5 separate regions of the Homo sapiens genome follow, and regions 1, 2, 3 and 4 are each linked to region 5. Evidence: fine-mapped expression QTL. A gene starts in region 5. Each other region holds a variant in brackets. All regions are shown on one strand. Distances are from middle to middle.

Region 1 (5,099 bases), 74 kb after region 5:
CCCAGCTAATTTTTTTTTTTTTTTTGTATTTTTAGTAGAGACAGGGTTTCACCGTGTTAGCCAGGATGGTCCTGATCTCCTGACCTCATGATCCGCCCGCCTCAGCCTCCCAAAGTGCTGGGATTACAGGCGTGAGCTACCGTGCCCAGCCTCTGTTACATATATTTGGAAGCAGTGGGTTCATCAGATGGGGAACAATGGCGAGATGGGCCACTTAAATCTGTGTTTATAATTTTGGCTCTCCCCTCCCCCAACAGGGACTCCCTCTGTCACCCAGGCTGGAGTGCAGTGGCAGGATGAAGGCTGTGTAGCCTCAATTTCCTGGGCTCAAGGGTTCCTCCCACCTAAGGCTCATGAGTAGCTAGGACCACAGGCATGCGCCACCATACCCAGCTTATTGATTTGTTTATTGTAGAGACAGGGTCTCCCTGTGTTGCTCAGGCTGGTCTTGAACTCCTGGGCTCAAGCTGTCTCCCACCTGGGCCTCCCAAAGTGCTGGGATTACCAGCCTGAGCCACGGCGCCTGGCTTTATAGTTTGTAGGCAAATAGATTTGAGTGGAGTCAGGAAGTTTCATGACATCCACAAAAAGAAGAGTCAACAAAATGTATCACAGTTCAGCATGTTCTTTTTTTTTTTTTTTTTTTTTGAGAAGGAGTTTTGTTCTTGCTGCCCAGGCTGGAGGGCAATGGCATGATCTCGGCTCACCGCAACCTCTGCCTCCTGGATTCAAGAGATTCTCCTGCCTCAGCCTCCCGGGTAGCTGGGATTACAAGCATGTGCCACCACGCTAATTTTGTATTTTTAGTAGCGACAGGATTTCTCCATGTTGGTCAGGCTGGTCTTGAACTCCCGACCTCAGATGATCCGCCCGCCACGGCCTCCCAAAGTGCTGGGATTATAGGCGTGAGCCACCGCACCTGGCCCTGTTCAGCATTTTCTAGACGGGAGTAGGTAAGCGATGTCAGTTCCACATAAAGTCCTGAGGACAGTCCTGATTACCTGTGCTTGATCAAAATCATCTTTCCGGGGGAAACCACACTTGAAGCTCCCATGTTTCAAGCCAACTCTAGTGTGAATTAGTCTCTTAACGAGCTAGACTTACACAAACCAGTTAACAGATTCATTTCACTTTGTAGTCCTCGAGGGATTGTTCCTGCTCCACTGCACAGACGAAAGCAATCCACTGAGACCACGGTACTGCGGTAATAAGACTTTGGCCAGGTGCGGTGGCTCAAGCCTATAATCCCAACACTTTGGGAGGCCAAGGCAGGCAGATCACTTGAGGTCAGGAGTTTGAAACCAGCCTGACCAACATGGCGAAACCCCGTCTCTACTAAAACTACAAAAATTAGCCAGGCGTGGTGGCGGGTGCCTGTAATCCCAGCTACTCGGGAGGCTGAAGCAAGAGAATCGGTTGAACCCGGGAAGCGGAGGCTGCAGTGAGCCGAGATCGCGCCGCCACTGCGCCGCAGCCTGGGCGACAGAGCCAGACTCCGTCTCAAAATAAAAAAAAAAAAAAAGAAAAAAAGAAAAAAAATGTGGAGCTAGCCCCACGGGTTTAGGACCCTTGACTCCTCGTTAGATGCTTCCCAGTATTTCAGAGCATCCCTTTGTTGGGCCCCCGGAAGGTCGGTCCCCTACTAGTAACGTGGGGTGAACGGGGGTACGTCTGCCGTAAAGTGGGAGGCGGCTGATGGGGACAAAGGCTGGGTCCCGAAGAAGCGCAGGGTCAGAAAAGTGCCCCCCAAAGCCGTCCCTGCACCCGAACCCTAGGATGGCCTCGCGCAACCGCAGGGCCGTCGGCACTGGTTTACGACCTGGGCGGGGCGGCCCGGACACTCTATGCAAATCAGCCCGGCGGACTCCGGAAGCAGCGCTCCCTCCGCTTCCGGCCGAGCCC[G/A]CGCCCCCCAGACCCCGAGAGCTCGCAGCTCCGGCCCGGCGGCGATGGCGCGGAGCGTGCGCGTGCTGGTGGACATGGACGGCGTCCTGGCCGACTTCGAGGCCGGCCTCCTGCGGGGCTTCCGCCGCCGCTTCCCTGAGGAGCCGCACGTGCCGCTGGAGCAACGCCGCGGCTTCCTGGCCCGCGAGCAGTACCGCGCCCTGCGGCCCGACCTGGCGGTAGGGGGCGCAGGGTCCCCACCCGGGCAGGGCCCGCTCGCTCCGTTCCGGGGGTCTCCCCCTTCTCTGTGAAGGGCGCAGAGCTCTCACCCTGGAACCCGCGGGCAGCGCACCCTGGGGAGGAGCCTTTGGGCGCGTGCCCCTGACCGACGCCCCCTCCGCCCCTCTGAGCTCGGGCCCGGAGCCCCCAGGAGCCTCCCTGCGGGTCCTCGCGGGAACGGGAAGCCGGGACCCAGAACTCTTGTCTTTCAGGATAAAGTGGCCAGTGTGTACGAAGCCCCGGGCTTTTTCCTGGACCTGGAGCCCATCCCGGGAGCCTTGGACGCTGTGCGGGAGATGAACGACCTACCGGAGTAAGGAGAGAGGGGGGCGGGCGGAGTCCTGGGCGGGCTCCTGGCTCCCGGCGGTAACCGCGTCCTTCTCCGCAGCACGCAGGTCTTCATCTGCACCAGCCCCCTGCTGAAGTACCACCACTGTGTGGGTGAGAAGGTGTGGCTGCCCCGCCCCTACTCCGCACGTGGAGCTGCCTAAATCCTGATTTTAAAAAGAAACCACCAGAAACCCAGAAGGTGGGGGTGGGGGGCTCTCAAGGGCTTAGAGCCAAGTCCCTATCCCTGAATTCCGGCTTCCATCAGGCCCTACTCACAGACTGTGTTTTCTACACAGTACCGCTGGGTGGAGCAGCACCTGGGGCCCCAGTTCGTAGAACGAATTATCCTGACAAGGGACAAGACGGTGGTCTTGGGGGACCTGCTCATTGATGACAAGGACACAGTTCGAGGTTGGACCCGTTATCCTTGGCAGCCTCCAGGCCTCTGGCCTGCCCGGATTAGGGAGAGGGAGTAATAATACCCATGACAGATGGCAGCGCGCTGTCTTTCACTGTCCTAGGCCAGGAGGAGACCCCAAGCTGGGAGCACATCTTGTTCACCTGCTGCCACAATCGGCACCTGGTCCTGCCCCCGACAAGGAGACGGCTGCTCTCCTGGAGTGACAACTGGAGGGAGATCTTAGATAGCAAGCGCGGAGCTGCGCAGCGGGAATGAGCGGGGATGCCGCGGGCAGCAGCTGGAGCTAAAGGAAGGGCAGGCCCACAGGGGCCACCGCAGAGCCGAGTCGGGGCGGCATCGTGCTGGTGCCTCTGGCCCCGTGGAGTGGAGCAGGCAGATACCGTTAAGCGCTGTGCTACCGGGCCCCAGGCCCAGCCACCCGGTACCTCCCGAGAGGCTGTCCCTGGACCCTGGCTGGCATGGAAATACAGTGGGAAAACCAGTCGGGACCTTTAATAAAAGACCTTGGCTTTCTAGTCTTCTAGGACCCTTTATTTGGGAACATAAAGGGACAGGCTCCCTGAGCGGGTGCTGATGAGCCCTTCCCTCCCCTCTGAGTCCAGTGGTCCCCTAATCTGCCCCATTTCCATGCCCACGTGGGTACCATTTTTGTAGCACCTGCCATTCCTGGGCCATCTAAGGGGTCAGCCTTGAGGGGGTACACGAGAGGCAAGGACCCCCATTTTCCCTGAGCTCCACCTTTCCATCGGATCCCACGCTCCTTATGTTGACCAGGGGGCACCATGGACATGGAGCCACATCCTTTACGTTGCCGTCTCTTCCTGACTCCCTTGAGCAACACTCACTGCGTCCCTGATGCCCTCGTGGGATACACTTCTGGGGTAGGGCTCCCCATCATTGAGTGACAGCAGAGGAGGGCCGAAGCTTTCAGCCGGGGCCATGGGGTGGCAAGGGGAGAAGATGCAGTTACCAGGGCTGGTGCCTCTATTCCGACGTATCATCACCTGCATGGCCTTGTGCTTGATGCCCGATGGCCACATTAAGTCCCTGGGCTGTCACTCAAGGGCAGGGACCACATCTTCATCTTGGAGTCATGGTGCCTAACAGCAAGGCTGGGTGGACAGTCAATGCTGGGCCACAGGTTATCCAGGTTGGCATCCACCAGGCCCAAATGCCCAGCTTGGAGAGCCCCTGGGGGAGGCATCCATCCTCCAGAGCCCTGGAGGGGGCACCACATCTTCCCAGGGTGAGATCCTTTCACCACGAGGCATCTCATTCCTATACCTGAAAACTACTCCAGACACTTCTGTTAAGGGATAATCCCTGATTTCCTGCAGCGAAGGCAGCTCTCCTAAGCCTCAGGCCCAGCTCCTGAGAACACTGTCCTGCAAAGCCTCTGGGTCCAGGCACTTGGCCGCTTCTTACACCAGGGCCTGAGTCTGGTGGTGGTGGCACCTGATGTAGGATTGAGAGTGCCAGCCTATGAACGCAGCTCCAGTTTGATCTTCTCCGTGTCTCTGGAGTCTGGCTTCCTCACTCCCAGTGGCGTTTCATCAGTGTAAATGCCTGTCCTGCTGAAAGAACCCGCCTTTCAGATGGCTGAAAAGGCACCAATGGGGCAGTATGTGCTCCCCGTTCCCTGCGTCCACATCAGGACTGTGGTCTCCAGCAGTAGGGGTGCCACGGTCTCGCAGTCTCCATGGATCAGCGCTGCCGTGGGGCCACGCTCCTCGGCAGTGGGATACCCAGGGCAGAGTGCGCCTGCCGGCTGCGGGCCTCGGCCACCTGGCGGGGGGAGCAGAAGTCCTCCAGGAAGATCTGTGCCAGGTTCCGGAGCCTGGCGCTGGCCGAGAGGGAGAAGCGAAGCATGCACTGCACCACGGGCGTGGCGGTCAGCTCTGGGAGAAAGCTGCGGCCCGGCGGGCTCAGGTGCATGAGCGTGGTGATGGCAGACAGCACCGTCTCCTCATTGGGGCTGGATAGGCAGTTGATGATGAGTGGGACACCTCCTGCGTGCAGGATGTGCTCCTTGTTGGCCCTGTCTGGGCACAGGTTGCACAGGCCTCCTGTGGGAGAGCAAGGAAGAGTCTGGATGCTGTAGCCCCGGGCCTCCTCCCACCTCCCCTGCCCGTGAGCCCCAGGTAGGGGCCCAGGCTGTTGAGAAGCTGGCCCCAGCACAAGGCATCCA
Region 2 (5,099 bases), 21 kb before region 5:
TACTTTTGGAGGACTTGAAGGGCACCAGGAAACTGCCGACATCTTGCCCAACTCCCAGTGAAGTGCACCCCAGCTGTTTCCTCTTGCCAGACAGCAAGGAACTGGCCCGTCTTCAGAGGAAGCTGTAAGCCAGGAGGGAAGAAGGGACCCTGTGGAGGACTCCTGCCATCTCCTTTCAGCTAAGGGGTTAGCAGTCAAGCATGCCCACCCAGGCACTGAGAGACAAACCCCTGGCCCTTTAGCAGGGCTGACGAACTACAGCCTCTGAGTCAGGATCCCCTGGCTGCCTTTTCTGCCCCTTAGGGTCTGGCACGATTATTGACATAGGAGTAAATCAGGGGCCCACTTAGAAACCTCCCTTCTCCATGTTCATATGAAGGTGGTGTGAACAGGAAAGGAAAAAAAAGAAAGAAACCTTTTTTCTAATGCCTTTAAAAAGGCATGCCAACAGCTCACTGGCTCAAGTCCAGAAAGAGACACACTTCCCTGCCGCCCAGAACTGTGCATGGGTCTGACTGATACATCCCATGAGAAAACAAGTGCCCACAAGACCCCAATTCAACCTTTCCCCAGAGCCAGGAGGGCACACTTCCTAAAACTGCTACTGCCTCTGAAGACATTGCAGCCCATTTCACAATTCCTGGGACAAGCTCTGCTTTTCTGTTCCTCTTTCAAAACAGGATAGGAGGTAGCCTCGTGATCAGAGAAATGCAAACTCCAAGATTTCCCACTAACAGAGCTCAGATCCCTTCCTGCTTGTGAGAGTGGAGAGAGGCTGAGACTGGGGGACTGCAAGCCTAATCATTCCTTGTCTGTGTCCGGCACGAGAGTGATGTTGTTCACCCCTCTTCATGGTACTTCTCTTTCTCTTCTGCCACTGGAAACAGCAGGATGCTTTCCCCTTTTATACTCCCTGCATCCAACAGACTTCTTCTGCTCAAATCTGTTTTATTCCTAAAAATCCAGATACAGGGCTTATAAATTAGGAAGCCCTGGTGAAACTCACTCACTGTTATAACACAGGAAATTTAGAATACTCAACTATGGGCAGAGACACCAACAAAGCCAAACGATGGTGTGTTTGTGTGTTTTTAAGTTATTCTCACTAATTCTTCCATGCAGGGACTTCTCACAATGTTTACAGGCCTGTGAAAATATTGACACAAAACTTGACTTTCAGGCCGGGCATGGTGGCTTACGCCTGTAATCCTAGCACTGTGGGAGGCCAAGACAGGCAGATCGCTTGAGCTCACAAGTTCAAGAACAGCTTGGGCAACATAGTGAAACCTCATCTCTCCAAAAAAAAAAATAATAATTAGCCAGGCATGGTGGCGCACACTTGTAGTCCTAGCTACCTGGAAGGCTGAGGCAAGAGGATCACTTGAACCCAGGAGGTCAAGGCTGCAGTGAGCTGAGATCACTCCACTGCACTCCAGCCCGGGTGACAAAGTGAGACCCTGTTTCAAAAAAAAAAAACTTGGCAGGGCGCGGTGGCTCACGCCTGTAATCCCAGCACTTTGGGAGGCCGAGATGGGCAGATGACCTGAGGTCAGGAGTTCCAGACCAGCCTGCCTAGGCAACATGGTGAAACCCTGTCTCTATTGAAAAACACAAAAATTTGCTGGGCGTGGTGACGGACACCTGTAATCCCAGCTACTTGGGAGACTGAGGCAGTAGAATTGCTGGAACCCAGTAGGTGGAGGTTGCAGTGAGCCAAGATCACGCCACTGCACTCCAGTCTGGGTGACAAGAGCAAAACTCTGTCTCAAAAAAAAAAAAAAAAAAAAAAAAAACCCAGAAACAAACACACAAAAAACTTGTTTTTCATTCCCCAAATCTAGTATCATTTTCTTGAAGCCCTGGCATTCTTTTGGCCAAAACAAGAAAAGCAGGTAGGGCGAAGGAAACTCTTCCCATGCCCAGATCTACAAACAGCCAGTTGAGGTCAGTGAATCTGACACCTGATCAAGGCCATCTTCTGCCATTACCCACTTCCTCCCTTCCCAGCACGTCTTCAGTGCAATGCCCACCATCCAGGGTGCACAACAAGGAAGGGGACCTTCTTTCTGACTTACCATATATGGAGAGTTCTGGAAAGGTTTACCTTTGATTGATTATGTTTGGCACTCCCTTTCCTGCCTTGCTAAAGATTCAGTGCAATCATAGAACACCCTCTTTTGGATAGAGGGCTGGAAATTCTGAATAATACCCAGCCTGAAGCCCAGTGGTTCGGTAGCTCACGTCACTGGAGTGAGACTCTTGGAACACGCCATCCCATAAGGTGTCCATTAGGTGCCAAGAAACAGGCTTGCTGGCTTTTTCTAGATTTTAAATGTCAAAGTAGTTTCC[C/T]GCGATGTTATTTTAAATGAACATCCCTGAAATGGAAACAGTTATGTATATGGTAGCCCTCAAGCCTCCAGGAAGTCCCTAAGCTCACCCAGAGAAAAGCCATTATCTACCTGTGGCAAGTCAAGCAGGGGAGCAGATGCTATGGTTTGAAGGGATCCCCTCTAAAACCCCAGTTTTGCCAATGTGATAGTATTAAGAGGTAGGGCCTCTAAGAGGTGATTAGGCCAGGAGGTGATTAGGCCACATCCTCCCTCATGAATGTGATTGGGTGCCCTTATAAAGCGACTTGATGAAGGGAGTTTGTCCTTCTTGCCCTTCCACCACATGAGAACACAGTGTTCAAGGTGCCATGTTGGAAGCAGAGAGCAGCCCTCACCAGCAACATTGCCAGTGCCCTGATCCTGGACTTCCTAGCCTCCAGAACGGTGAGAAAATAATCTTTTTCTTTATAAATTATCTGGTCTCAGGTATTCTGTAATATCAGCGTGAGATGGACTAAGATAGCAGGTCTGAGGGAAGAAGGGTAAGGAAGGAACAGGCCACTCTAGAAACGCAAGGTGGTGATATTTGTACACCTAAAAATGGTTACAGTGGGGGGTGGGAGAGATCCTACCTGCACTCTTTGATTACTTGATGGATGTCAAACTCAAAGGCTGCCAACAAGATGTTGTCCAGGGGTTCTGGGCTGCTCTCACCTCCCAGAAACAGGTCCAGGCTGGACTGTGGAAAGGTGATGAGACACTCAATCCTGAGGACGGAAGCAGAGACTCGGGGCAGGCAGGGCTGCTGTATAACGAACCCCAGAGAAGGTGCCTTGTTCTTTCACTAAGGGCCAAAGGAAAGGGTCTTCCTGTTCCTCAGGGAGGAATTCAAAGAGAATGACCCATCAGGGCGCCCCCAGGACTCCTACCCCCACCCTTGCCCACCCCGAGCTCACTCACCTGGGCATAGTAGTGCAGATCAATGGGTTTTACTGTGGGATTGGAGTACAAGAGCCGAGTCACTAGGAAATGATACCAATTACTCAGAAGTTCCTTCTGCTCTAACAAGGCAGCTTCGTCTCCCAGCATAATCTGAGGAGAGACATTTGTGCTGAACTCTGTCCTCCTCTCAGGGGTACCTTCTCCATAATGCTCCTGCTCTCAGCTAAGGGCACCGGATTTCAACTAGTCTGAAAGCTCTCGCCATCACGGCAGAGCGACAGACAGCCCTATCCAAGGAGGACCAAGCTCCTGCCACTGCTGCACTGGATGCCACAGCCCCCATAGGAAGCCAACATGGATGCAATCTGAACTGCTTCCCAGACCTTCAAGAGAGACTCCAGGTGAGGGCTGGTGGCGAATGTGCTGTCCTGGAGGTACCGCTCACATTCCTCGTGCCAGTGCTGCCACTTCAGCTCCAGCTCTGTCAGTGTCTGGGTGTTCCCGGGCTAAGGGAGAGACCAGCCATGAGACGTCATCCCATCCACACCCTTTATATTTAGTGAATCACGCATCTCCTGTGACCCAGCAGAGCAAAGCTACCCCCACGTACACTAAGAATGGGCATTGTCCTCATCAGGTCCCCCATGATTCGGCATATGCCTGCAGAGGCGGGGCTGGCATCGGCTTCCTTGGAGAGCATCTGTCGGGCCTCATCCAGCCGGCCCTGCAGCACCAAGATGGTCACCTGGGAGGAGATCCGGGCCCATAAGCATTGGCAGGAGGCCTGGCCCTGCCGAGGCGTGAGGAGGCCAGTCCCCTCACCCCACACTTTGGCTTTTTAACTCTTCACACACAGGCTTCTTTCTGCACCTGAGTCTGCCCTGGGAAGAATGATGGCTCTTTCCCTCCAGAAGTAATCTATCACATCCAATCTCATGGCTTTGTCACCTCCACTATGTTTTTCAAACAGCCAGCTGTAGTCCATTATAGCCTGTGACCACCTTTTTTTTTTTTTTTTCCAGAGTTCCCCTCTTGTTGCCCAGGCTGGAGTGCAATGGCATAATCTCGGCTCACTGCAACCTCCACTTCCCGGGTTCAAGCGATTCTCCTGTCTCAACCTCCCGAGTAGCTGAGATTACAGGCGCATGCCATCACGCCCAGCTAATTTTTGTGTTTTTAGTAAAGATGGGGTTTCACCATATTGGCCAGGCTGGTCTCGAACTCCTGACCTCAAGTGATTCCCCGCCTCGGCCTCCCAAAGTGTTGGGATTACAGGCGTGAGCCACCACGCTCAGCCCCAGCTTTTCAAAAATGAAAGAAACAGAAAAACATGTTCCTCTACCTGCTTCCCCCCACCCCTTCTCCACCATCATGGTGTGTGCTGTTGATTATTTCTCCCACCATCTTCTCACAAAATGTCCAGGATCATGCAATTCCTGGCCAAGAAACAAAAGCAAAATCGTCCCATTCACCAGTGGATTCAGATTAAAACTGGTAATACAGGGCTGGGCGTGGTGGCTCACAGCTGTAATCCCAGCACTTTGGGAGGCCAAGACGGGCAGATCACAAAGTCAGAAGATCGAGACCATCCTGGTTAACATGGTGAAACCCCATCTCTACTAAAAATACAAAAAATTAGCCAGGCGTGGTGGCAGGCGCCTGTAGTCCCAGCTACTTGGGAGGCTAAGGCAGGAGAATCGCTTGAATCTGGGCGGCGGAGGTTGCAGTGAGCTGAGATTGTGCCACTGCACTCCAGCCTGGATGACAGAGTGAGACTCCATCTCAAAAAAACAAAACAAAACAAAATAAAACAAAATTGCTAATACA
Region 3 (5,099 bases), 130 kb after region 5:
CCAGAAGAGACATCCCTCATTCATTCTTCTGCTCAGCTTAATGAGAATGAGGGTGCAGTGCTGGATGGCCCACGGCCTAGCCCTCTGCTTGGAGGGCTGCTCCCACTCCCTGAGAGCCTGTCTCTAATTCGAAGGAATCAGGTTATTTGCTCCTAACAGTGATGATCATAGGGTTTCAGGCCACAGGAAAGGGCCTTGGAGAGCTCAGGAGGCAGCAGGGCCAGAAGGGGCATAGCAGGTATACAGCCGTGTGGGCGCCCTGCGGCAGTGCTGCCAGGCCCAAGTCCCACATAAGCCTTTAGTCTCCACCTATCCCAGCAACGGGGATTTTCATTGTTATATTACACAACAGTGCAATTCCAAGTGCTGTCCATGAACCACTGCTGGCTCTTAGCAACATAAGAAGCTCATGCCAGGTTGTAAATCAATGTAGTCCTTCCTTCACTGACAAAGTCTTTTTTTTTTTTTTAAGGCAGTGTCTCGCTTTGTCCCCCAGGCTGGAGCACAGTGGTGCAATCTCAGCTCACTGCAACCTCTGTCTGCCTCCCTGGCTGAAGCCATATTCCCAGCTTAAGCCATCTTCCCACCTCAGCCTCCTGAGTAGCTGAGGCTACAAAATCTTGCAATGAAAAAAGTGTCAGCCGGGTGAGGTGGCTCACGCCTGTAAATCCCAGCACTTTGAGAGGCCCAGGGGGGCAGATCACTTGAGGTCAGGAGATCGAGACCATCCTGGCCAACACGGTGAAACCCCGTCTCTACTAAAAATACAAAAATTAGCTGGGTGTGGTGGCGCGCGCCTGTAATCCCAGGTACTCAGGAGGCTGAGGCAGGAGAATAGCTTGAACCTGGGAGGCAGAGGTTGCAGTGAGCCAAGATCACCCCATTGCACACCAGCCTGGGCGACAGAGCAAGACTCCATCTCAAAAAAAAAAAAGTATATATATATATAGGCCGGGCGTGGTGGTGCATGCTTGTAATCCCAGCTAATTGGGAGGCTGAGGCAGGAGGATTGCTTGAACCTGACAGGTGGAGGTTACAGTGAGCTGAGACTGAGTTACTGCCATCCAGAGACTCAAAATAAATAAATAAATAAATAAATAAATAAATAAATAAATAAATATGTATATATATATATATACAGTATATTAAACACAATTTGGTTTTTTTTTTTTTGAGACAGAGTCTCACTCTGTTGCCCAGGCTGGAGTGCAGTGGTGCAGTCTTGGCTCACTTCAACCTCTGCCTCCCGGATCAAGCGATTCTTGATTCTCATGCCTCAGCTACTTGAGTAGCTGTGATTACAAGCGTGCGGCACCACGTCTGGCTAATTTTATTTTTTTTGGTATATTTTAGTAGAGACGGGGTTTCACCATGTTGGCCAGACTCGTCTTGAACTCCTGGCCTCGAATGATCTGCCTGCCTCGGCCTTCCAAAATGCTGGGATTACGGGTGTGAATCACGGCTCCCAGCCTTAAACACAATTTGAAAATGGAGGCGACCTGGCACCAGTGCTCACGCCTGTAATCCCAGCACTTTGGGAGGCTGAGGCAGGCAGATCACCTGAGGTCAGGAGTTCAAAATTAGCCTGGCCAACATGGTGAAACCCCGTCTCTACAAAAAATACAAAAATTAGCTGGGCGAAGTGGCAGGTGCCTGTAATCCCAGCTACTTGGGAAGTTGAGGCAGGAGAATTGCTTGAACCCAGGAGGCAGAGGTTGCAATGAGTTGAGGTCGTGCCATTACACTCCAGATTGGGCGACAAGAGAGAAACTCCATCTCAAAAAAAAAAGAAAGGAAAATGGAGGAAAGGGGGAGAGTCACACAACCTAAAGTGATGCGCTTGGATTTTGATATGTTGATAGAGGTTTCATACATACAATTCTGAATCCTTATTTAACTCACTAGTACTTTTTATGCCACAACATGACCCTGGTGACCATGACTTTAATAGCTGCTTAATTTTCTTCCAAGGAAATGTGAACAAAATAATGTCTTCATTTAGAAATATGACTGATGGGGGCTTGGCAGGGATTACTAGGCTCCGGAAGAGGCTGTGTTATCTTCCAGCCCAACTGTCCACATTTAGAAGTGACAACATTCATGAACTAAGTCAACATCCACCAAAAATAACATAAGATAAAGCTCACCGTTTTGGAACATGAAAATGACACACACAGACCTCACCCACCAATCTCTAAGCTGGGACAACAAACGCTTGCATTTAAACTTCTCTAAAATGTCAAATTAGCATATTCTTTCCCTCCATGTAAAGTTTCAATAAACTTGACTCAATCTGCCTTTATTTTAAAAACCTTACAAAAGATGTATTTAAATCCTTGAAAAAATTAACTTTAGGCTGGATGCGATGGCTCAGGCCTGTAATCCCAGCACGTTGGGAGGCCAAGGTGGGCGATCACATGAGGTTAGGTGTTCGAGACCAGCCTGACCAACATGGTGAAACCCTGTCTCTACTAAAAATACAAAATTAGGCAGGCATGGTGGCACATGTCTGTATCCAAGGTACTCAGGAGGCTGAGGCAGGAGAATCACTTGAACCCAGGATGTGGAGGTTGCAGTGAGCCGAGATAGTGCCATTGCACTCCAGCCTGGGCAACAAGTGTGAAACTCTGTCTCAAAAAAAAAGAAAAATTAACTTTATACTGTGTGCACAAATAAATTTCTCTTATACAGCTAAATATGGTTACATACTTTGTTTAAAAAAATTTTTTTTCCACTAATGACACTTCACATGTATTTCTACATAAACTATCTTTCTATTCTTCTGGGAATGTGTCCTAAGAGCTGACAGACGGACGGTTGAAAATACCCTCACACGGCTGGGCACAGTGGCTCAGGCCTGTAATCCCAGCACTTTGGGAAGCCGAGGCAGGTGGATC[A/G]CCTAAGGTCAGGAGTTTGAGACCAGCCTGGCCCACATGGCAAAAACCCGTCTCTACTAAAAATACAAAAATTAGCCGGGTGTGGTGGCGGGCGCTTGTAATCCCAGCTACCTCGGGAGGCTGAGGCAGGGGAATCGCTTGAACCTTGGAGGTGGAGGTTGCAATGGGCCAAGATGGTGCCACTGCACTCCAGCCTGGGCAACAGAGCAAGACTCCATCAAAAAAAAAAGAGAGAAAGAGAGAGAAGGAAAGAAAGAAAGAGAGAAAGAAAGAAAGAGAAAGAAAGAAAGAAAGAAACAGAAAGAAAGAAAGGAAGGAAGAAAGAAGAAAGAAAGAAAGAAAGAAAGAAAGAAAGAAAGAAAGAAAGGCCTCAACCACCCAGGCTCAAGCAATCCTTTTACCTCAGCCTCGAAAGAAAGAAAGAAGGAAGGCAGGCAGGCAGGCAGGCAGGCAAGCAAGCAAGCAAGCAAGCAAGCCTTGACCTTCCAGGCTCAAGCAATCCTTTCACCTCAGCCTCCCAAGTACCTGGGTTTATAGGTATGAGCCACCTCTCCTGGCCAAGCATATATTTTTTTCTTTTTTTGAGACAGGGTTTCTCACTCTGTTGCCCAGGCTGGAGTACAGTGGCACAATCATAGCTCCCTGCAGCCTCGAATACGATCCACCTGCCCCGGCCTCCCAAAGGGCTGGGATTACACAAATGAGCTACCACATCTGGCCGATATTTTATTTTTATTTATTTATTTGTTTTTGAGACAGAGTCTCACTCTGTTGCCCAGGTTGGAGTGCAGTGGCGTGATCTTGGCTCACTACAACCTCCACCTCCCGGGTTCAAGTGATTCTCCTGCCTCTGCCTCCTGAGTAGCTGGAATTACAGGCACCTGCCGCCATGCCTGGCTCATTTTTGTATTTTAGTAGAGACGGGGTTTCACCATATTGGCTGGGCTTGTCTCGAACTCCTGACCTCAGGTGATCTGCCCACCTTGCCTTCCCAAAGTGCTGGGATTACAGGCGTGAGCCACCACGCCCGGCCCCAGTCTTTTTTTTTTTTTAATTGGGCAGTCCTCTGAATCAGAGTAAGTTCAGAAAGATTCTAGGAAAACCATGATCTTAATGAAAGTATTTAAGTAAAAATTAAAATGAAAATATAAAACTTAGAAGCAATTTAATTGCCCTGTATAGAAAATTGATCAAGGAATTAATCTGGCTTCATGGAGTAACAGTTTACTCCAGGGGAAAGCTTTACTGATGAAAATCTTTCTGTGTGGTATGACTCTTATTAAAAATTTAGCTCTGTGCTGCCACCTGGGCTTTATGGCTGGGGAGATCCAGTGATACTGAAATTATCTCCTGCCAGTACAGATGCTGTATCAGAGCCTCCTGCAAGTCCCAACTGGACTGTGGCCATGCAGAACTCCAGGGTTCTGGGCAGGTCCATGTCCTCTTTTGCAAGTAACTATTTCACTGGGCCCTGACCGAGATGGAACACCTAGTTCATGGGACATCAAGTGACCCTGTGGCCTGAGCTGCCCGTCACCAACTAGGTGTTGTGTATTACACCAACCGAATTAGGAGTAATTAACAAAAATTTTTTTCTTTTGTAGAGACAGGTCTTGCTATGTTGCCCAAGATGGTCTTGAACTCCTGGCCTCAAGCAATCCTCTCACCTCAGCCTCCCAAAGTGCTGGGATTACAGGTGTGGGCCATGGTAACTGGCCAATTTTTTTTTTTTTTTTTAAGAGACAGGTTCTGGCTGGGCATAGTGGCTCACGCCTGTAATCCCAGCACTTTGGGAGGCCGAGCCGGGTGGATCACGAGGTCAGGAGATCAAACCATCCTGGCCAACATGGTAAAACATTGTCTCTACTAAAAATACAAAAATTAGCTGGATGTGGTGGCACACGCCTGTAATCCCAGCTACTCGGGAGGCTGAGGCAGGAGAATCGCTTGAACCTGGGAGGCGGAGGTTGCAGTGAGCCTAGATGATACCATTGCACTCCAGCCTGGGCAACAAGAGTGAAACTCCGTCTCAAAAAAAAAAAAAGAGAGACAGTGTCTCACTCTGTCTCTCAGGCTAGAGGGCACAGCTCACTGCAGCTTTGAAATCCTTGGCTCAAGTGATCCTCCCACCTCAGCCTCCTGAGTAGCTGGAACTACAGGCATGTGTCACCACGCCTGGCTAATTAAAAAAAAAATTTTATA
Region 4 (5,099 bases), 830 kb after region 5:
ACAGTGGGCCGCGCTAACTGTGGCAAATCAAGTCTTTCTCTGCCAGCTGGAGGAGCTGCTACTCTGATGCGCAGGTACCCAAGGCCTCAGCAGGTGTGGCTGGAATGCCACTGGGTCGGGAAAATGAGGTCTAGGACAAGCATGAGGCTCTCTTGGGTCTAACTGAGCTGATCCATTCACCTGGGAAGAAGAAGAAGGGAGGCGCCATGGAGACAAGCCAATAGGACCAAGCCCTTTGTCCTGGTCCCTGGGGACAATCCTGAGGCTGGGAAGCCAAGATCTGCAGAGTTATTCTTGGGACCTAGGGAAGGGTACAGACACTCCCGTTAAAAAAGCAAGCGAGCAAACCAAACGTCTTCCTTGTGAACTGAACCTCCAGAGGTCCCAGGTACTTGGAGGAATTGGAATAAGGTGAATCACAGGTTTCCCCACTTAGAGTCAAAATACAGCCCTTAGCAACCAGTCCCGCCTAGTGGTTACCTACTGAATACATTGCTCTCCCTGAGGGCAGAGTCCTTGGAAATAATCTCTAAGGAGGACATAGAAAAACCTGTCTGCCCTTGTCTCCACTGGCCACACCAGAGCTGCTGTCCCAGAATGAAAGCACAGCTCTGAGAGGGTGGTCACCTGGACTGGCCAGGGCTATGCTCCCACGGTGCTCCCTGGTCAGGGGTCCCAGCCATTTCAATAGGTGGTAGAAGCTCTTCTAGCCAGCCCTGCCCCATCACCTTCACCGTTAAGCTGTTTCCAGCCCTTTTCCACAATCCTTCGACATCCCTGGGAGACAGAGTCACTGGGCCCTTCTTTCATGGATACAGAGCAAGCTCCTCCCCCAACCCCACACACAGGGCCTCAAAGTCCTCTCTGAGACCGCAGCCTTCCCTAGGCTGTGGTTAAAGCCACTTAAAGCCAACTCCCGTACCTGCCCCTTCCCTCCATCTAGATGGGTCCCTTCCTCCATCCTACCCGGCTCCTGTGGCACTGCCTGCCTGCCCCTCCCTCCGAAGAGCGGTGTGGTAAGGCAGGGGCTGCGGTGCCAGGGCATCTTGGCACGCCTCTCCCGCCCCACCCCGCCCCGCCTGCTAAATATATATCTTGGAGGAGTCCTGGAAGGAGCCGCCACAGATGTGATTAACTCTTTCACCTCCAGCACCGTGGAGAGAGGGCAGGCTGGAAGGAGCAGTGGGAAGTGGGGGTACCCAAGTCCTGCCCAGGCTCAGCTGGGGGATGGGAGGACTCGGCCCCTCACGCCAGGCTGGGAGGACGGGGTCCTGGGATCCCAGAGACGCTGACTGAAGCCCTGAGGCTCCGCAGCCTGGCAGGCCAAGCTCCCCAGAGTGGGGAAGGCAGGTGAGCAGAACCCGAGGCCAGCAGGAGGGGCTGGCAGGACCCTGCGAAGGAGAGTGGAGAGAGGAGGGCGATGAACGATGAAAGGGCCCTTCACACCACTCTGCACAGGAAACCACCAAAGTCATCTGAGAAAATTGCAGGGCCCTGCAGCCCCGTGGCTGGCCAGCCCCAGCGTGGCAGACGTGGCTTTAGGGTGGAGGAGACTGACAGAGGGTACAAAGCCCTCCCACCCAACTACTCGGTGCTGGCTGCTGGCCCAGGGCAGGCAGTTTCTTTGCAGTAACTCGATCTTCCTTTGAACCTTGGCTTAAAGGCCCGCCCTCCCACTCCCTGGCCCGACCGTCCAGCCAGTCCTGCAGCGCCCCCTGCTGTCTGAGCTGACAGGGACATGCAAAAGGAGGAGGTGGGCAGAAAACCCGCCAGGGAGCTCAGGCCACCCCCAGCGACAAGGAGGCCAGGGAAGCAAGATTTCCAAGACACCCCCATGCCAAGGGCTGTCCCTTGGTCCCTGCCAGCCAGCACCTCTGTAATCTGGCCAACCAAAGTGCTCAATGTTTTCTTTTTTTTTTGAGACAGTGTCTGGCTCTGTCGTCCAGGCTGGAGTGCAGTGGTGTGATCTCAGCTCGCTGCAGCCTCAAACTCCTGGGCTCAAGTGATCCTTCCACCTTAGCCTCCTGAGCAGCTGGGATTACAGGTGCCCACCACCATGCCCGGCTAAATTTTTTTTATTTTTATTTTTGGTGGAGACAGGGTTTCGCCACGTTGCCCAGGCTGCTCTCGAACACCTGGTCTCAAGTCATTCTCCTGCCTTGCCTCCAAAGTGCTAGGGTTATAGGCCTGAACCACTGTGCCCAGCTGGCTAAATGCTTAATTTGGAAAATATGGTCTTGCTTTCTGGGCCAGGGTGCTGAATGGATTCTGCACGATCCCTCTGGAAGCTTGTCTCCCCGTCCCCATCATGTCACCCACCCCACCACTGGTAAAGCCACCTCCTCGGCCCGGGCATGGTGACAGGAAGGGAGCCTTGTCACCTTGTCAGAATCGAGGGACACTCATGTCTGTGGACTGGAGCTCCCATGAAAGATCCCAGAGCAGAAGCGACAGATGTGGCTCCCTTTTATCCAGCCAGCATGCCTCCTCTTTCGGACTGAAAAAAAGAGGGGAAGGGGAAGAGGAGCAGAGCACTCATGGGGGAGGACCAAAGTGAGCATGGGAGTCAGAGAGAGGGGCAGAGGCTGCGTGTGTGGTGGGGCCTGAGACCATGCCCCGGAAGCAACCTGGTTGCGTTGATATCCATTCCAGAGACAAAAAGAAATGTGCTGCTCAGGCCGGGCGCGGTGGCTCACGCCTGTAATCCCAGCACTTTGGGAGGCCGAGGCGGGCAGATCACCTGAGGTC[G/A]GGAGTTCGAGACCAGCCTGGCCAACACAGTGAAACCCCTGTCTCTACTAAAAATACAACAATCAGCTGGGTGTGCTGGCACGCACCTGTAATCCCAGCTACTCGGGAGGCTGAGGCAGGAGAATAGCTTGAACCCAGGAGGCGGAGGTTGCAGTGAGCTGAGATCGAGATCGCGCCACTGCACTCCAGCCTTGGCGACAGAGCAAGACTCCATCTCATAAAAAAAAGAAAAAAGAAAGAAACGTGCTGCTAAGGGGGAGTGTGCAGTGATAGCACTGCAAACCGGAGCGACTGGGAAACCCAACACAGAGGGAAAGAGCTGTTTGAGGTCTGAGCAATGAGGAAGCCAGGAAAGGTGCCAGTGGCAGCAGGACACCCCGCCAGAGAGCACATAAGAGTGGCCGAGGGAAAAGGGGGCCCGAAACCCAATTGTGATTAAGAAAGTCAAGAAGGCCAGTGCCGTGGCTCACACCTGTAATCCCAGCACTTTGGGAGGCTGATGCAGGAGGATCGCCTGAGCTTAGGAGTTGGAGACCAGCATGGGCAACATAGGGAGACCTCGTCTCTACAAACAAACAAACAAAAAATTAGCGAGGCATGGTGGTGCATGCCTGTGGTCCCAGCTACTTGGGAGGCTGAGGCCAGAGAATTGCTTGAGCCTGGGAGGTTGAGGCTGCAGTGAGCCGTGGTCGTGCCACTGCACTCCAGCCTGGGTGGCAGAGCGAGACCCTGTTTCCTAAAAGGAAAAGAGGCCTGTAATTCCAGCACTTTGGGAGGCCGAGGCAGACACATCACTTGAGCCCAGAAATTCAGGAGCAGCCTGGGCAACATGGTGCAACCCCCACTCAGAAAGAAAGAAAGAGAGGAAGGAAGGAAGGAGGGAGGGAGGGAGGGAGGAAAGGAAGGAAGGAAGGAAACGAACGAGAAAGAAAATAACCTTTTCTGAATGAAAAGATACTCTCAGTGTGGAAATTAAAAGGCCCACCTCCAGGTACCTGTTCAACAAGGGTGAATCTTCAAAAACTTCAAGATCTTCCAGGAAGAAAGGAGAGATCATGTTTAAAGATACGAGACTGGCTTTGAGTCCTGTTACGCCAGCCAAGGAGAAGAGAAAGGTGGGGATAGTTCGTATACAGCCAAGAGAAAAGTGACTTTTATTAAAGCCTGGATCCACAGCCAAGGAACATTTGTCCTTAAAATACCCATAGTTTCCCCCAACCCAAATTCATATGTTGAAGACCTTCCCCAGGTTGGATGAGAGCCCATCGTAACAGCCTCGTTTGAACTTCATCACCTCTTTCAAGGCCCTATCTTCAAATGCCGTCCCATTTTGAGGTACTGGGGACACAGGGAGAAGGTGACCTTCTGCAGGGCAAGGAGAGAGGCCTCAGAAGAAACCCAAGCTGCTAACACCTTCTTCTTTTCCTTTTCAGACAAGGTCGCCCTTTACTCTGTCATCCAGGCTGGGGTGCAGTGGCGTGGTCTTGGCTCACTGCAGCCTCGACCTCCTAGGCTCAGGTGATCCTCCACTACATCCAGCTGTTTTTGTATTTTTGGTAGAGACAGGGTCTTCCTATGCTGTTTAGCCTGGTCTTGAACTCCTGGGCTCAAGTGATCCCCCTGCCTCAGCCTTCAAAAGTGCTGGGATTATAGGTGTGAGCCACTACATTTGGTCAATACATTGTTTTGAACTTCCAGCCTCCAGAACTGTAAGAAAACACATTTCTGGCCAGGCAGGGTGGCTCACGCCTATAATCCCAGCACTTTGGGAGGCTGAAGCAGGTGAATCACTTGAGGTCAGGAGTTCGAGACCAGCCTGGCCAACATGCGAAACCCTGTCTCTACTGAAAATACAAAAATTAGCCAGACGTGGTAATGCATGCCTGTAGTCCTAGCTACTTGGGAAGCTGAGGCAGCAGGATCACTTGAACCCAGGAGGTGGAGGTTGCAGCGAGCCGAGATTGTGCCACTGCACTCCAGCCTGGGCGACAGAGTAAGACTCCATCTCAAAAACAAACAAACAAACAAACAAAAACTCATATGTTGTTTAAGCCACCCAGTCTGCGGTATTTTTTTAATGCAGCCCTTGAAAACTAATAGAGTCCAGAAAACAATTTGTCAACCAACTTCCAAACAGCAAAAATCATATATACCCTTGGGAAGAAATGAAAGACATGTGAGCAATAACCATCCTCAGATATTAACAAAGGACAAATGATAGACCGTAAGATCAAACAGCACATCAAACCTGTGGTGGGAATTGTTAGGAAAGAAACTCAGAATTTCAAAAAGGATTTTCTTTAGCTAAGATATTTCAGCAGATGAGTGGGTAGGCTATGGAGGGAGAAGGG
Region 5 (5,099 bases):
GCCACCAAACCAGGCTAATTTTTGTATTTTTTTAGTAGAGATGGGGTTTCACCATGTTGGCCAGGTTGATCTCGAACTCCTAGCCAAGCGCGGTGGCTCATGCCTGTAATCCCAGCACTTTGGGAGGCCGAGGCAGGCTGATCACGAGGTCAGGCTTTGGAGACCAGCCTGACCAAGATGGTGAAACCCCATCTCTACCAAAAATACAAAAATTAGCTGGGTGTGGTGGCACGCACCTGTAATCTCAGCTACTCAGGAGACTGAGGCAGAAGAATCGCTTGAACCCAGGAGCCAGAGGTTGCAGTGAGCTGAGATCACGCCACTGCACTCCACTCTGGGTGACAGAGTGAGAATCCGTCTCAAAAAAAGAATGAGGCCAGGCGCAGTGGCTCACACTTGTAATCCCAGCACTTTGGGAGACTGAGGCCGGCAGATCACCTGAGGTCAGGAGTTCCAGACCAGCCTGACCAACATGGAGAAACCTCGTCTCTACTAAAAAAATACAAAATTAGCCGGGCATGGTGGCACATGCCTGCAATCCCAGCTACTCAGGAGGCTGAGGCAGGAGAATTGCTTGAACCTGGGAGGCGGAGGTTGCAGAGAGCCGAGACCGCACCACTGCACTCTAGCCTGGGCGACAAGAGGGAAACTCCGCCTCAAGAGAAAAAAAAAAGAAGGCCACATATCTCCCCAGAGAGCTTCCCTCACAAATTGCTCACAAGGAAATTCCTTGTGAGCCTCTAAAATTTTCAGGATACACATCGCCCCTATAAACTAGTCCTAAAATCAAGATCTGTTGATTCTGACAATGTCAACTACCAGCTTATCTTCACAAGTAAAAGACCAGAAATCGGCCGGGTGCGGTGGCTCACGCCTGTAATCCCAGCACTTTGGGAGGCCGAGGTGGGCGGATCACGAGGTCAGGAGATTGAGACCATCCTGGCCAACACGGTGAAACCCCGTCTCTACTAAAAATACAAAAAAGTACAAAAAATTAGCCGGGCGTGGTGGCGGGCACCTGTAGTCCCAGCTACTCAGGAGGCTGAGGCAGGAGAATGGTGTGAACCCGGGAGGCGGAGGTTACAGTGAGCCGAGACCGCGCCACTGCACTCCAGCCTGGGAGACAGAGCGAGACTCCGTCTAAAAAATAACAGTAATAATAACCATAATCCCTCTACCTACCCTGAGATGAATGCATACATAAAATTTTCCTCTGCTCCCTCTTTTCACAGGTAAAATGCAGATTTACTGAGGCTAATCACCGACTCACAAGAATGTAATCATTTGCCTCCTCACTGCCTAACCTCCCTTTTTTGCCCCTCCTGCTAGCTCCTTCCTCTTTAACTAGTGATGTTCCCAAAACCATCTTTGGAAAAAGCACAGGTCTCAGATCCTCCTGTGACCTGTGCTTTTTCCCGGTTGGATCCTCAACCTTAGCTAATTAAACCTTTATCGGTTGAGACCTGCCTCAGTCACTTCTGGTTAACAAGAGGGAAAACAAGAGCAATCCAACTAGCAGAAACGGTAGGTATCTCGTACATAAAGCGCGTGAATTTTTTTTATACACATCACAGATCATCCACAGTTGACATACTGTCTTCAAAGTTCAAATGGAATTGAATGCACAGCGATAAAACAGGAATAGTCTCCTGAGATAATACGTTGAATAAACCTTAGGCCACACAGGCAGAAGCTCAATGTGCCGCGATGCAGAGCTTAATACGGCTGGAATAAAAATATAAATTCCTCTGCTTGGGCTGAACCCACTCTAATGCCCAAGAGGAAAAGCAAGGGAAGTAAAAAGGCCAGGAACACAAAGGAAGGAAAGGGACGGAGTGGGACCTTCGAGGCCGGGGTTTGTGACTGGTGGCAGAAACCCCGCGACCACTGCGACCCTAGGGCGGGCACCTCGTTAACACTGCGACCTCCGGAAAAGTGGCAACTGAGTCGAGGGAAGGGGACGAGCGCCTCGCGACCACTAGGGAAGCAGACAAGCCTGAAGTAACTAAGCAGACGCAGTTCTCAACCCGCAAGGACGAGCAAGCCTGTTCGGGGTACCCTTACAGTGACTGTTGGCTCGCCATCGAGCTCCTCCATAGCGCCGAACCCCAGGCTCCTAGAAGTCGCTCGGACGCCAATGCTTCCCGCTCAGGCCTCCCGCTCAGAGCTGGCTGCGAGACAAGACTCCGCCTGGGCGTCTCCTGCAGCGCCTGCAAGCCCAAACCCTCAGTGCTGCGGCGCTGTCTCCTCTCAGCCACGGCCACCCCTCTGCGGTCCTCTGCACGCGTCCTTCCTTCCTGGCGTCGACAGCAAATCAGGGAAAACAGCGCCGAGGACTGACTGCACTCAGAGTACCGCGCTAACAGGATCAGGCGGCGCCGGGGACACCCTGGTGCCGAGCGGAGAAAAGGCCCCCGGAGACGGCGGGAGGGGCAGGAGGACCCCGGGGCTGGAGACGGTGCGAATGCGCGTGCGTAGGCTGGGGCGGCGGCACTTGGGTGGGAACTCGTGCGGGATTTAGGTCCCAGTAAGCGTACAACGTCTCCCAACTCTGGGAGTCCTCGCTACATCCCGGTCTCCACCTTAGTGTCGTCGCAGCCACTTGTCCAAACCCCGACAGTCAAACGGGCTTGTGCTGGAAAGCAATCGCCTCCACTTCCACACTAGAACACACACAAGAGGCACGGGAACAAAATCGATACCCCTGAAGGCCCGGCGCTGTGGCTCAAGCCTCTAATCCCAACACTTTGGCAGCCCAAGGTGGGTGGATCACTGGAGTTCAGGAGTTCAAGACCAGTCTGGCCAATATGATGAAACCTCGTCTCTACTAAAAATATAAAAAATTAGACGGGCGTGGTGGCGGACACCTGTAATTCCAGCTACTCGGAAGGCTGAGGCAAGAGAATTGTTCCAACCCGGGAGGTGGAGGTTGCATTGAGCCAAGATCGCACCACTGCACTCCAGCCTGGGAGACAGAGCGAGACTCCGTCTCAAAAAAAAAAAAAAAAATTAGCTGTGCTTGGTAGCGCGCGCCTGTAATCCCAGCACTCCGGGACGCCGAGGTGGTTGGATCACCTGAGGTCAGGAGTTCAAGACCAGCCTGGACAACATGGCGAAACCCCGTCTCTACTGAAAATACAAAAATTAGCCGGGAGTGGTGGCGGACACCTGTAATCCCAGCTACTCGTAAGGCTGAGGCAGGAGAATTGTTCCAACCCGGGAGGCGGAGGTTGCAGTGAGCCAAGATCGCGCCACTGCACTCCATCCTGGGCGACAGACGGAGACTCCGTCTCAAAAAAAAAAAAATTATTTTGCTGAGTCTCAAAAAAAAATTATTTTGCTCTTTTTCTCTTAATAAGTTTCCGTTATACCTCAAGTTGGAGTTATCGCCTGTGTAATTGAAAACTTTTCCAGAGTTAAATACAGTTTGAGAGTTAACCACTCTAGAGAGAGGAAGGGGAAAAGAGAGGGGAAGGAGCCACACTCTTTTAGAGAGAGGGGAGGAGAGGAAAGAGAAAAATAAGTTGTAAGATAATTGTTTCATTTTTCCAACCGTTTTCCATTAGGATTAACTGAAAAAGAAGGATACATAAACTACTTCATCAAAACCTTATTCTTAGAAATCTATAGAAAGGTTGAGGAAGGAAAAGGTCCATATATAGTATGCGTAATCAGTATATAGAACAAGGATAGGCCGGGCGCGGTGGCTCACGCCTGTAATCTCAGCGCTTTGGGAGGCCGAGGCGGGTGGATCACCAGGTCAGGAGAGAGAGACCATCCTGGCTAACACGGTGAAACCCCATCTCTACTAAAAATACAAAAAAAAAAAAAAAAAAAAAAAAAAATCAGCCGGGCGTGGTGGCGGGTGCCTGTAGTCCCAGCTCCTCGGGAGGCTGAGACAGGAGAATGGCGTGAACCGGGGAGGCGGAGCTTGCAGTGAACCGAGATTGCACCGCTGCACTCCAGCCTGGGCGACAGAGCGAGACTCCGTCTCAAAAAAAAAAAAGAACAAGGATAGCACTATTAGCTGTAGTTTTCCTTTTTCGCCCTTGTATTACTAAGCCTATTTGAATGATTGGGTAAAATGGTTGGTATATAGCAGTATTAGACCAAAGAATATTGCCAATACTTTTTCCTCAATGTTATCTAGCTCTTGGTCAGGCAATTTAACTACTTTTATTATCTTAAATGGCATTTTGTCAGCCTTAAAATAAAAATAATCAAGGAAATATAGCACTAAGATCTAACAAGCTCTCTCTCTCTTTTTTTTTTCTTTGTCTTTTTTTTTTTTTTTTTTTTTTTGTCTTTTTGAGACAGAGTCTTGCTCTGTCGCCAGGCTGGAGTGGAGTGGCACGATCTCGGCTTACTGCAACCTCCGTCTCCCGGGTTCAAGCGATTCTGCTGCCTAAGCCTCCCGAGCAGCTGGGACTACAGGCACACGCCACTACGCCGGGCTAATTTTTTATTTTTTAGTAGAGACGGGGTTTCGCCATATTGGTCAGGCTGGACTCGAACGCCTGACCTCAGGTGATCCACCCGCCTCAGACTCCCAAAGTGCTAGGGTTACAGGCATGAGCCACCGCACCCAGCCTGGTAAAGTCTTAAGTGGATACATTTCATGCAGCCTAATAAAACTAATGCTCCTGAACCGGGCACAGTGTACATTATTTAACAAAATCTCTGGCCTCAGCCTGGGCAACAGGGCAAGAGCAAGATGCTGTCTCAAAAAATAAAAAATAAAAAAAGGCCGGGCGCGGTGGCTCACGCCTATAATCCCAACACTTCGGGAGGCCGAGGCGGGCGGATTACCTGAGCTCAGGAGTTCAAGACCAGCCTGGGCAACAAGATGAAACCCCGTCTCCACTAAAATACAAAAAATTATTTGGTCATGGCGGTTGTGCGCCTGTAGTCCCAGCTACTGAGGCTGAGGCAGGAGAATCGTTTGAACCCTGGAGGCGGAGGTTGCAGTGAGCCAAGATCATACCACTGCACTCCAGCCCGGACGACAGTGTAAGACTCCCTCTCAAAAAAAAAAAAAAAAAAAAAAAAAAAAAAAAAAAAAAAAACTCTAGCTGGAACTAGTGGCACATACCTGTAGC

Evidence for each region.
Region 1: its variant is fine-mapped to the expression of NUP85 in lymphoblastoid cells (GTEx, PIP above 0.99). The same link has a PIP of 0.9 or more in tibial artery and tibial nerve.
Region 2: its variant is fine-mapped to the expression of NUP85 in blood mononuclear cells (TOPMed, PIP above 0.99). The same link has a PIP of 0.9 or more in T cells, lung and whole blood.
Region 3: its variant is fine-mapped to the expression of NUP85 in cerebellar hemisphere (GTEx, PIP above 0.99).
Region 4: its variant is fine-mapped to the expression of NUP85 in whole blood (GTEx, PIP 0.98).

The regions. Positions count from the first base shown.
Region 1 is chr17:75,128,555-75,133,653 of GRCh38, reverse strand. ARMC7 (armadillo repeat containing 7) reads right to left here. Exons shown (of 3, transcript NM_024585.4): 3 at 3,382-4,977. The coding sequence ends at 4,616. It overlaps NT5C (5', 3'-nucleotidase, cytosolic), which reads left to right and starts at 1,912. Exons shown (of 5, transcript NM_014595.3): 1 at 1,912-2,120; 2 at 2,373-2,473; 3 at 2,549-2,609; 4 at 2,787-2,901; 5 at 3,012-3,426. The coding sequence starts at 1,947. The coding sequence ends at 3,166. RefSeq lists silencers at 1,750-2,319, 2,689-2,893 and an enhancer at 2,930-3,019. The variant G/A (reference allele first, on the strand shown) is at 1,903.
Region 2 is chr17:75,224,021-75,229,119 of GRCh38, reverse strand. It overlaps NUP85 (nucleoporin 85), which reads right to left. Exons shown (of 19, transcript NM_024844.5): 8 at 3,883-4,017; 9 at 3,656-3,778; 10 at 3,291-3,422; 11 at 2,963-3,069. Among named protein-coding and RNA genes, the nearest start is that of NUP85, 21 kb to the right of the region's middle. RefSeq lists enhancers at 2,466-3,665, 3,929-4,430. The variant C/T (reference allele first, on the strand shown) is at 2,350.
Region 3 is chr17:75,069,117-75,074,215 of GRCh38, reverse strand. No RefSeq gene overlaps it. Among named protein-coding and RNA genes, the nearest start is that of SLC16A5, 16 kb to the left of the region's middle. The variant A/G (reference allele first, on the strand shown) is at 2,898.
Region 4 is chr17:74,376,208-74,381,306 of GRCh38, reverse strand. It overlaps LOC124904055 (a long non-coding RNA gene), which reads right to left and starts at 1,053. Exons shown (of 2, transcript XR_007065898.1): 1 at 967-1,053; 2 at 1-301. RefSeq lists a silencer at 1,692-1,791. The variant G/A (reference allele first, on the strand shown) is at 2,749.
Region 5 is chr17:75,202,760-75,207,858 of GRCh38, reverse strand. NUP85 (nucleoporin 85) reads right to left here and starts at 2,180. Exons shown (of 19, transcript NM_024844.5): 1 at 2,065-2,180. The coding sequence starts at 2,097. RefSeq lists enhancers at 1-81, 2,169-2,348, 1,507-2,440, 2,441-3,375.